Linked DNA regions of Homo sapiens: region 1 is linked to region 2. The links come from fine-mapping of genetic effects on gene expression. A gene starts in region 2. The other region holds a variant in brackets. All regions are shown on one strand. Distances are between the middles of the regions.

Region 1 (4,382 bases), 69 kb before region 2:
GACTCGCTCACTATCAATCTCTCTCTCTCTCTCTTTTTCTCTCTCTCTCCCTCCCTCCCCTATCACCCCTCTCCTGGCCAATCTCCCCTTCCCCGAACCTGCCAAAGACCCAGACAATCTCCTAGACTCTCCCATTGCTGGTGACTTCATCCACCATCAAAGCCTCCGCCAGGGTGAGTAAAAAGAGACTGTTGCCATTCCCTGAACTCTTGACCGTCCATCTCCCATTTCCGAAAGACCCAGCGCTGGGCCAAGGGCTTCCTCCAGCCTCCAGGCCTCTGGTTCCTCCGTTTCAGGGACGCCTGACACGGTGGTTACCTCCTCTATTCCTGACAAGTTCCGCGGGAAAGGGGACGTCACCGGCAGTCTCTTCTTCCTCTACCCCCCTCCCTTCCATTCACTATGGGAGCCTCTCAGTCTATTCCTCCTAAAACTACCCCCCTTGGGTGCCTCCTACACAATCTGTATACTCTTGGCCTCCGTTCAGAAATCTGCCCTAAAAGGCTTATCTTTTACTGTAACACCACATGGCCTCAATACAAATCAGACCATGGCTCCCAATGGCCTGAAAATGGCACTTTCGATTCCGACATGCTCAGAGACTTAGACAACTTTTGCCACCGCAGTGGGAAGTGGTCTGAGATTCCTCATGTTCAGGCTTTCTTTACTCTCTGTAGTCGTCCCTCCCTCTGCCAGTCCTGCTGTACTTTTCAAATTCTCCTCGCCTGCTCCAAACCCGACTCACCTCCTGCTCCCCTCATCCCAATAGCCCCAGCGGACGACTTCTCCTTCTTTGATCCCACCGATTTCTCCCCTCCTCGACAACATCCTAATCCTCCACCGGAACAGCATGACCCCCCACCGTATGCCTCCGCTCCGGCTCTACCTCTCTCTCCCCTTCTCTCCAACCACCCCACCTCCGACTCTGAGTCCTCCCCATCTCCACCCCTTACTCGTTCTCGAGCCCAACACGCCCAGCAGCCTGCTCCCTTGCTTCTTCTCCGGGAAGTGGCATGGGCCGAAGGGATGGTCCGTGTCCACGTCCCATTTTCCCTCTCTAATGTTTCCCAAATTGAGAAACGTCCAGGTTCTTCTCCGATCCCGACACTTACATCAAATAATTTAAATATCTCACCCAGTCTTATGAACTTACTTGGCATGATCTCTATATTATTTTGTCTTCTACCCTCCTTCCGGAAGAAAAGGAAAGAGTGTGGCTTGCAGCCCAGGCCCATGCCGATGACCTCCATCGGCAAGATCCTACTAGGCCAGTAGGGGCCGCTGCAGTTCCCTGAGAAGAGCGTACCTGGGCGTATCAACCCACAGGCCCCTGCCAGACCTCCTGTAATCATATGATTACTTGCCTCACTGCAGGCCTTAACAAAACTGCCCATAAGGCTGTAAATTTCGAAAAACTCAAAGGAATCTCCCAAAAGGCCAATGAAAACCCTGCCCAATTCCTTTCTCGCCTTACAGAGACTCTCCAAAAATACACGCGTGTCGATCCCGCCTCCCGGGAAGGAACTATTGTTCTTTACATCCATTTTATTTCCCAATCTGCCCCCGACATCTGGCGCAAACTTAAAAAGGCTGAAGATGCCCCTCAGACCCCACAACGAGACCTCCTTAACTTGGCTTTCAAAGTCTTTAATAACAGGGATGAGCAAAATAAATTAGATAAAGCCCAAAGAGATCGTGCTAAATACCAGCTTCTAGCAGCGGCTGTCCATCAACCCAGCCGTATCACCCAAGGGCACAAAAGACCCGATAGCAGCAACCCTCCGGGCCTTGTTTTAAGTGTGGCAAAGAAGGCCACTGGGCATGGGTGTATCCTAACCCTTGAGTGCCAAAGAGTCCTTGTCCAGTGTGCCAGCAGACAGGCCACTGGAAGTCCGACTGTCCTCTCAACAGACAGACAAGCCTGCTCCTCAGAGCCACCACCCCTTTAACAAGACAAAAAGTGAAGAACCGCTTGCATTCCCGCAGCTCCTCAGCCTAGCCGCTGAGGACTGACCGGGCCCAGGGCCCCCGGCCCCATCTGCCATCACTGCATTGGAGCCCAGGGTAACTCTGCGAGTAGCAGGTAAGCCGATCTCTTTTTAAATTGATAGCGGGGCCACCTACTCAGCTTTGCCTGAATTTTCAGGACCCACTCATCCCTCTCAGGTCTCAGTTGTGGGGGCTGATGGACTCATCTTGCGTCCACGCGCCACCAGACCCCTTACTTGCTCTCTGTTTGATACTGTTTTCCCACACTCTTTCCTTATCATGCCTCGTTGCCCTACCCCCATCCTAGGCCAAATTCAAAGCCAAATTCAAATTCAAATTTTGGCCAAATTCAAAGCTTCTATCACCTTTTTCTCCCTCCCTCAACCGGAGTCCCTCCTACTCCTCT[A/C]TGCGAGTCCAGCCCCTGACCCCTCTCCCCAGTACCCACTTCCCACCTCTTTTGTAAACCCAACAGGGTGGGACACCACCACCCCTTCCCTAGCTACTCACCACGACCCCATCAAAATCCAGTTAAAAGACCTCTCTAAATTTCCCAGCATCCCCAAAAACCCTATCTCCCTAACCCACCAAAAAGGCTTACAGCCCATCACAAACAAGCTCTGTTCACGCCGTCTTCTTAGGCCAACACGTTCTTCATATAACACCACCATCCTCCTGGTTAAAAAATCAGACGGCTCATACCGACTCCTGCAAGACCTCCGAGCCATCAGTCAGGCTGTCTTTCCTATTCATCCCATAGTCCCTAACCCCTCTACACTTCTCTGTCTCATTCCCTCCAACACCACCTGCTACACTGCTATTGACCTAAAAGATGACTTTTTTTACTATTCCCCTGCACCCTGATTCCCAAAACCTCTTTGCTTTCACCTGGACCGACCTTGACACCCTCCAGTCACAACAACTAACCTGGACTGTCCTCCCTCAAGGCTTCAGAGATAACCCTCACTTCTTTGGACAAGCTTTAGCTCAAGATCTCACTTCCTTAAACCTTTTCCCTAGCCGTCTCCTTCAATACGTGGACAATCTTCTCCTTTGCAGCCCCTCTCTAGAAGACTCTCAAACTCACACAGTTACTCTCTTAAAACTTTCTCTCCATCAAAGGGTATAGAGTCTCCCCCTCCGAAGCTCAACTTTCCACCTCCATAGTAACTTACCTAGGAGTTCAACTTTCCCCTGGGACCCGGGCTATGACCCCTGCCCTAGCAGCACTAATAGATAATCTGCCCTCGCCCTCCTCCAAAAGCGAAGTTCTTTCCTTCCTAGAACTAGCAGGCTTTTTTAGAATATGGATTCCCAACTTTGCCCTCCTAGCTCACCCACTCTATGAAGCAGCCAAAGGCCCTCTCAGTGAGCCTCTAAATCCCTCACGTAACATACTCCCCAACTTCTGCAAACTTCAAACCGCTCTTGTCACTGCACCAGCTCTGTCCTTACCTGGTATCTCCCAACCTCTCACACTCTATACTGCCAAAAGATGAGGAATAGCCCTCGGTGTCTTAGGGCAACAGAAAGGAGACCCTCCTTCCTTTGCCCCTGTAGCCTACCTCTCTAAACAGTTAGACAACACAGTCAGAGGATGGCCAACCTGTCTTAGAATGCTAGCAGCAGCGGCCACTTTAGCTGTAAGCAGGAAACTAACATTGAGTCAAAATACCACCACCTACAGTCCTCATAATCTACAGGATCTCCTCTCCTCCCGAGCATGAGGCTCCCTCCTTTCCGGATTCAATTACTCCATGCCCTCTATCAAAAATCCTGAATTCGGTCTTGCCAAAAGTGCTCCCTTCAACCCAGCATCCTTACTCCCTGTATCTTCTTCCCTTCCTACTCATTCTTGCACTGACGTCCTAGATCACCTGCAGCCACACTTTCCTAACATTTCCTCCGAGCCTCTCACCAACCCCGATGACCAGCTATTTATAGATGGCCCCCCTTCTGGGCCCACTGGCTCCCCCAAAATTGCTGGGTATGCAGTTGTTTCCCTTGACCGAGTAATTGAAGCTAAGCCCCTACCTCCAGGAACCTCCTCTCAAAAAGCAGAATTCATAGCTCTCACCAGAGCCCTAACCCTTTCCAAAGGCAAACGAGTCAACACTTACACAGACTCCAAAGATGTATATCACATTCTTCATTCCCACGCCACCATCTGGCAAGAGAGGAGATTCCTTACTGCCAAAGTGACCCTATCACTAACCACCCCCTTATTTACCAACTCCTTCAAGCCGCACATCTCCCAACTGAGGCAGGAGTTATACACTGTTGGGGACATCACACAGGAACAGATAAAATCTCAAGAGGCAACAGAAAGACCAATGGGGCAGCAAAAGAAGCCTCCCTTTCTTCCGCTCCTGCCTCCCTCCTCCTCATTACCCCTG
Region 2 (4,382 bases):
AGTGAGCCAAGATTGCACCACTGCACTCCAGCCAGGGTGACACAGAGAGACCCTGTCCAAAAAAAAAAAGAGTCTAAGAGAAAAAGAAGGTAGATAAATAAACCAAATGATCAAATCTAACTTCAGCAAAACTGCAACGAACTGACATCAGGCACTCTGGAAGGGCCACACTGACAGAGACACAACGTTGCCTCTCACATATTCCTGGTAAAAACATTTAAGCTGAAGCTAATCATGAGGCGAAAATCAGACAAATCCAAATTGAGCGATATTCTGCAAAACACTGGGCTGGATTCTTTAAAAATGTCATTTGGCCTACAGAGGACAGCCAAATAAAAATGAAAATATCATTGTCATGAAAGACACAAAAGGCAGGGACACCATATTAAAAGAGACCAAAGAGATATGACAACAGAATACAATTGGTGATTCTTGATTGGATAGAAAAAATATAAACAACTATAACACATGTTATTGGGATAAATGGAAAAACTGAAATATGGACTGTGTATCAGAGTATTGTATCATTGTTAAATTTTCTAAATGTGTTATTTGTACTGTGATGATGTAGGAGAATGTCCTTGTTCTTGGCAGATAACTGCTGAAAGAAGTGGTGAATTATTAGTAGTCTACAACTAACTCTTGAAAGGTCCAGTGAAAATAAATACATAAATGGGAGAGAGAAAACACCAGAGCGAAAGCGAGCACACAAAAATAAGGCAAAATGGTGCAGCTAAGTGAAGGACGGGTTTATAAATATTCAATGTACTGCTCTTGCAACTTTCCTGTACATCTGAAAATTTTCAAAACAAACAGATGGGAAGAAAAAAATGAATATAGTACAAAATATGTGCAGTATCATAGTCTGCACTGTAAGTAAAAGTGTAAAGTCTTTTGTAGACCTTGGATTCTAACTACAGCTTTGTAGTGCATTAATGAAAAAGGTAAACATTAAACAATATCCAACAAAATAAAATAAAAATAAAAATGCCTTGTAAAGGGTGAATGAGATTAATTATTTTAAATGTTATGCAATGTACACCATTGACAATTAGGATACAATGCAAATTTAACATTATAACTACTCCTAACATAATATTTTCACAGCAAAGGTCTGAATTTTTACTGCACCTCTGGTTCACAACCATAAACAATTATATCTGTACAGTAATAATAATTTTAAAAACATCATTCTAGCTGGTTGCACTTGGATTGTCAATAATCCACAAATCCCACTAAAGAAAATTTTTTACCCGTTACATTTTCTAGAATGACTACCTCATTTCCCAACTTTGAAGTAACAGCTTTTAACTAAAAGGTTGCTTCAAAACTACTATTAAAAAGTGGTTCCTATAAAACACTACTGCTTGACCCAAAAAATAAAATAAAGCACACAGCCCAGCTTTCCTCTCAATTGGTCACTAAACCAGTATCATGAAAAGGCAGGGAGCCACGCTGTAAGCGCTCCCCCGTTTTCTGCCGAATGTTCAGGAAAAGAGTGTCAGGTTCAAGCCAGCATTTAAAATAAAATAAAATGAATCACAGTCAACTCCCTAAACTCCAATGTAAGAACCACGCACCTGCACCAAAATATGCCTGAGCGGGAACTCGAGTCGGCTCTCCGAGACCCCAAAGTTCCCAACCTAGCCCCAACCCCTCAAGCTTCCCCCAGGGGCACCGGCTTCTCACAGCCGAGGGGGATTCGGGGCCCACATGCGGAGCCTCCCGGGCCTGTCGAGCCACGGCAGAAGGCGACGACGCCCGGCCCCACAGGCCCCTCAAGCTCCTCAAGCTCCCCCAGTCCCTCCCTCCCCCGCCACTCGCTCTCCAGTCCCTGCCCCTTTCCCCGGCCCCACTCACTCTTCATCTTGGATGCGGAAGCCGGTGACAACCCCTTGCCGACACTGGACGGAAAAGAAAGAAGCAGGAAGGTTGTCCCCCTGCTTTCCACTTCCCTGAGGCGGGGTCCCGCACTAGGATCTCCGTGGTGGTCCCTCGAAGGAGAGCGTTAGAGATCCCGCCGCCATGTTGTGTCCCTGTCACCCTAGCAACCGTCAGGCCCTGAACGCCATGAGCTGTCGCCTGCGCATGCGCAAGATGCCCCGCCCATGTACGCGTGCGCAGTGCAGCCCGTCCCCTCAGCCCGGTTGCTAAGCAGCCTTTCCTCCGCTTCCATGTAAATACTGTGCAAATCCCCGCCTTTGACACAGGCGACCTTCGCTCGGCTCGCTCTCCCTGCTGGCCTGGGAACTTAGCGATTTGGAACCCACTACGTGGACGATAGCCTTGAGCTTTAATTGGGCTTGGGAGCTTCTACAGGAATTTTTTTTTTTTTTTGAGACAGAGTGTCGCTCTGTTACCCAGGTTGGGGTGCAATGGCGTGATCTCGGCTCACTGCAACCTCCGCCTCCCGGCTTCAAGCGATTCTCCTGCCTCAGCCTCCCAAGTAGCTGGGATTACAGGCACCCACCACTACACCCGGCTAATGTTTTTGTATTTTTAGTAGAGACGGGGTTTCACCATGTTAGGCTGGTCTCGAACTCCTGACCTCAGGTGATCCGCCTGCCTCGGCCTCCCGAAGTGCTGGGATTACAGGCGTGAGCCACCACGCCCGGCCCAGTTTTTCTTTTTAATTCAACAAGCATTTGTTTTTGCCCCAGGAACTGTCGCAGGTATTGGGGATTAAAGGACAGTGTAGACGAGGTGACTGAGTTCTTGAAACTAACATTCTAGTGTAAAGATGAATGAATGTACACCGGAATGAACTATGTGCAGACACGGTGCCTAAGCAACACAGTGGCCTAGTTCTCTGGACCCTGACAAAACAATAAAATAACAAGCATACTATGTATGGGTATAGTATTTTATGAAGCTCATTAGATTAGCCTCATAATTATTCCATGAGATCAAAACCCTGTTTTTTCCTCCATTTTTTTTCTTTTACTAAAATACATCGTTTATTTTTAAAACAGATAAGTAGCCTTGCCAAAACGAAGCCTCAGAAAATTGGTTTAAGACTGAATTGGCCAGGTGTGGTGGCTCACACCTGTAATCCCAGCACTTTGGAAGGCCGAGGCAAGAGGATCGCTTGAGGCCAGAAATTCAAGACCAGCCTGGGCAACATAGAGAAACCCCACTTCCCTCTTAAAAAAAAAAAAAAAAAAACTCCGGGCGTGGTGGCTCACGCCTGTAATCCCAGCACTTTGGGAGGCCAAGGCGGGCAGATCACGAGGTCAGGAAATCGAGACCATCCTGGCTAACACGGTGAAACCCCATCTCTACTAAAAATACAAAAAAAATTAGCCGGGCGTAGTGGCGGGCGCTATAGTTCCAGCTACTCCGGGGGCTGAGGCAGGAGAATGGCGTGAACCCTGGAGGCGGAGCTTGCAGTGAGCCGAGATTGCACCACCTGCACTGCAGCCTGGGCGACAGAGCAAGAGACTCAAAAAAAAAAAAAAAAAAAAAAAAAAGCCGGGCACGGTGGCACATGCCTGTAAACCCAGCTATTCAGGAGAATAAGGCGGAGGTATCTTGAGACCAGGAGTTCTAGGCTCAGTGAGCTATGATAGCACCACTGCACTCTAGCCTGGGTGACAAAGCAAGACCTTGTCTCGAAAGAAAGAGAAAGCGGCCGGTCGCGGTGGCTCACACCTGCAATCCCAGCACGTTGGGCGGCCGAGGCAGGCAGATCACTTGAGTCCAGGAGTTCGAGACCAGCCTGGCCAACATGGGGGAAACCCCGTCTCTACTAAAAAAATACAAAACGGCTGGGCACAGTGGCTGATGCCTGTAATCCCAGCACTTTGGGAGGCCAAGGCGGGTGGATCCCCAGGTCAGGAGTTCAAGACTAGCCTGGCCAAGATGGTGAAACCCCATCTCTACTGAAAATAGAAAAATGAGCCGGGTGTGGTGGCAGGCACCTGTAATCCCAGCTACTCGGGAGGCTGAGGCAGAGAATTGCTTGAACCCGGGAGGCGGAGGTTGCAGTGAGCCGAGATTGCGCCACTGCACTCCAGCCTGGGCGACAGAGTGAGACTCCGTCTAAAAAAGCAAATACATAAATAAAATACAAAACAAGCCAGGCGTGGTGGCTCACACCTATAATCCCAGCACTTTGGGAGGCCGAGGAGGATGGACCAACTGAGGTCAGGAATTCGAGACCAGCTGGCCAACCAACATGGTGAAACCCTGTCACTACTAAAAATACAAAAATTAGCCAGGTGTGGTGATGCGCTCCTGTAATCCCAGCTACTCAGGAGGCTGAGGCGGGAGAATCACTTGAACCCAGGAGGTGGAGGCTACAGTGAGTCGAGATCCTGCCACTACACTCCAGTCTGGGCGACAGAGCAAGACTCCATCTCAAAAAATAATAAATAAATAAA

Direction of the effects. Positions count from the first base shown, and alleles are read on the strand shown. Sizes are in standard deviations (SD) of each study's normalised expression.
For the expression in testis of the gene that starts at base 2,063 in region 2, C is the low allele of the variant in region 1 and A is the other (large effect, 1.0 SD a copy in GTEx).

The links. PIP is the estimated chance that this variant, and not a neighbour inherited with it, causes the effect.
Region 1: its variant is fine-mapped to the expression of MOK in testis (GTEx, PIP above 0.99). The same link has a PIP of 0.9 or more in lung.

What each region holds. Positions count from the first base shown.
Region 1 is chr14:102,234,212-102,238,593 of GRCh38, forward strand. All of the region lies in intron 7 of MOK (MOK protein kinase), which reads right to left. Among named protein-coding and RNA genes, the nearest start is that of MOK, 69 kb to the right of the region's middle. The variant A/C (reference allele first, on the strand shown) is at 2,396.
Region 2 is chr14:102,303,102-102,307,483 of GRCh38, forward strand. It overlaps MOK (MOK protein kinase), which reads right to left and starts at 2,063. Exons shown (of 12, transcript NM_014226.3): 1 at 1,861-2,063. The coding sequence starts at 1,867. RefSeq lists enhancers at 1,944-2,466, 2,233-2,282.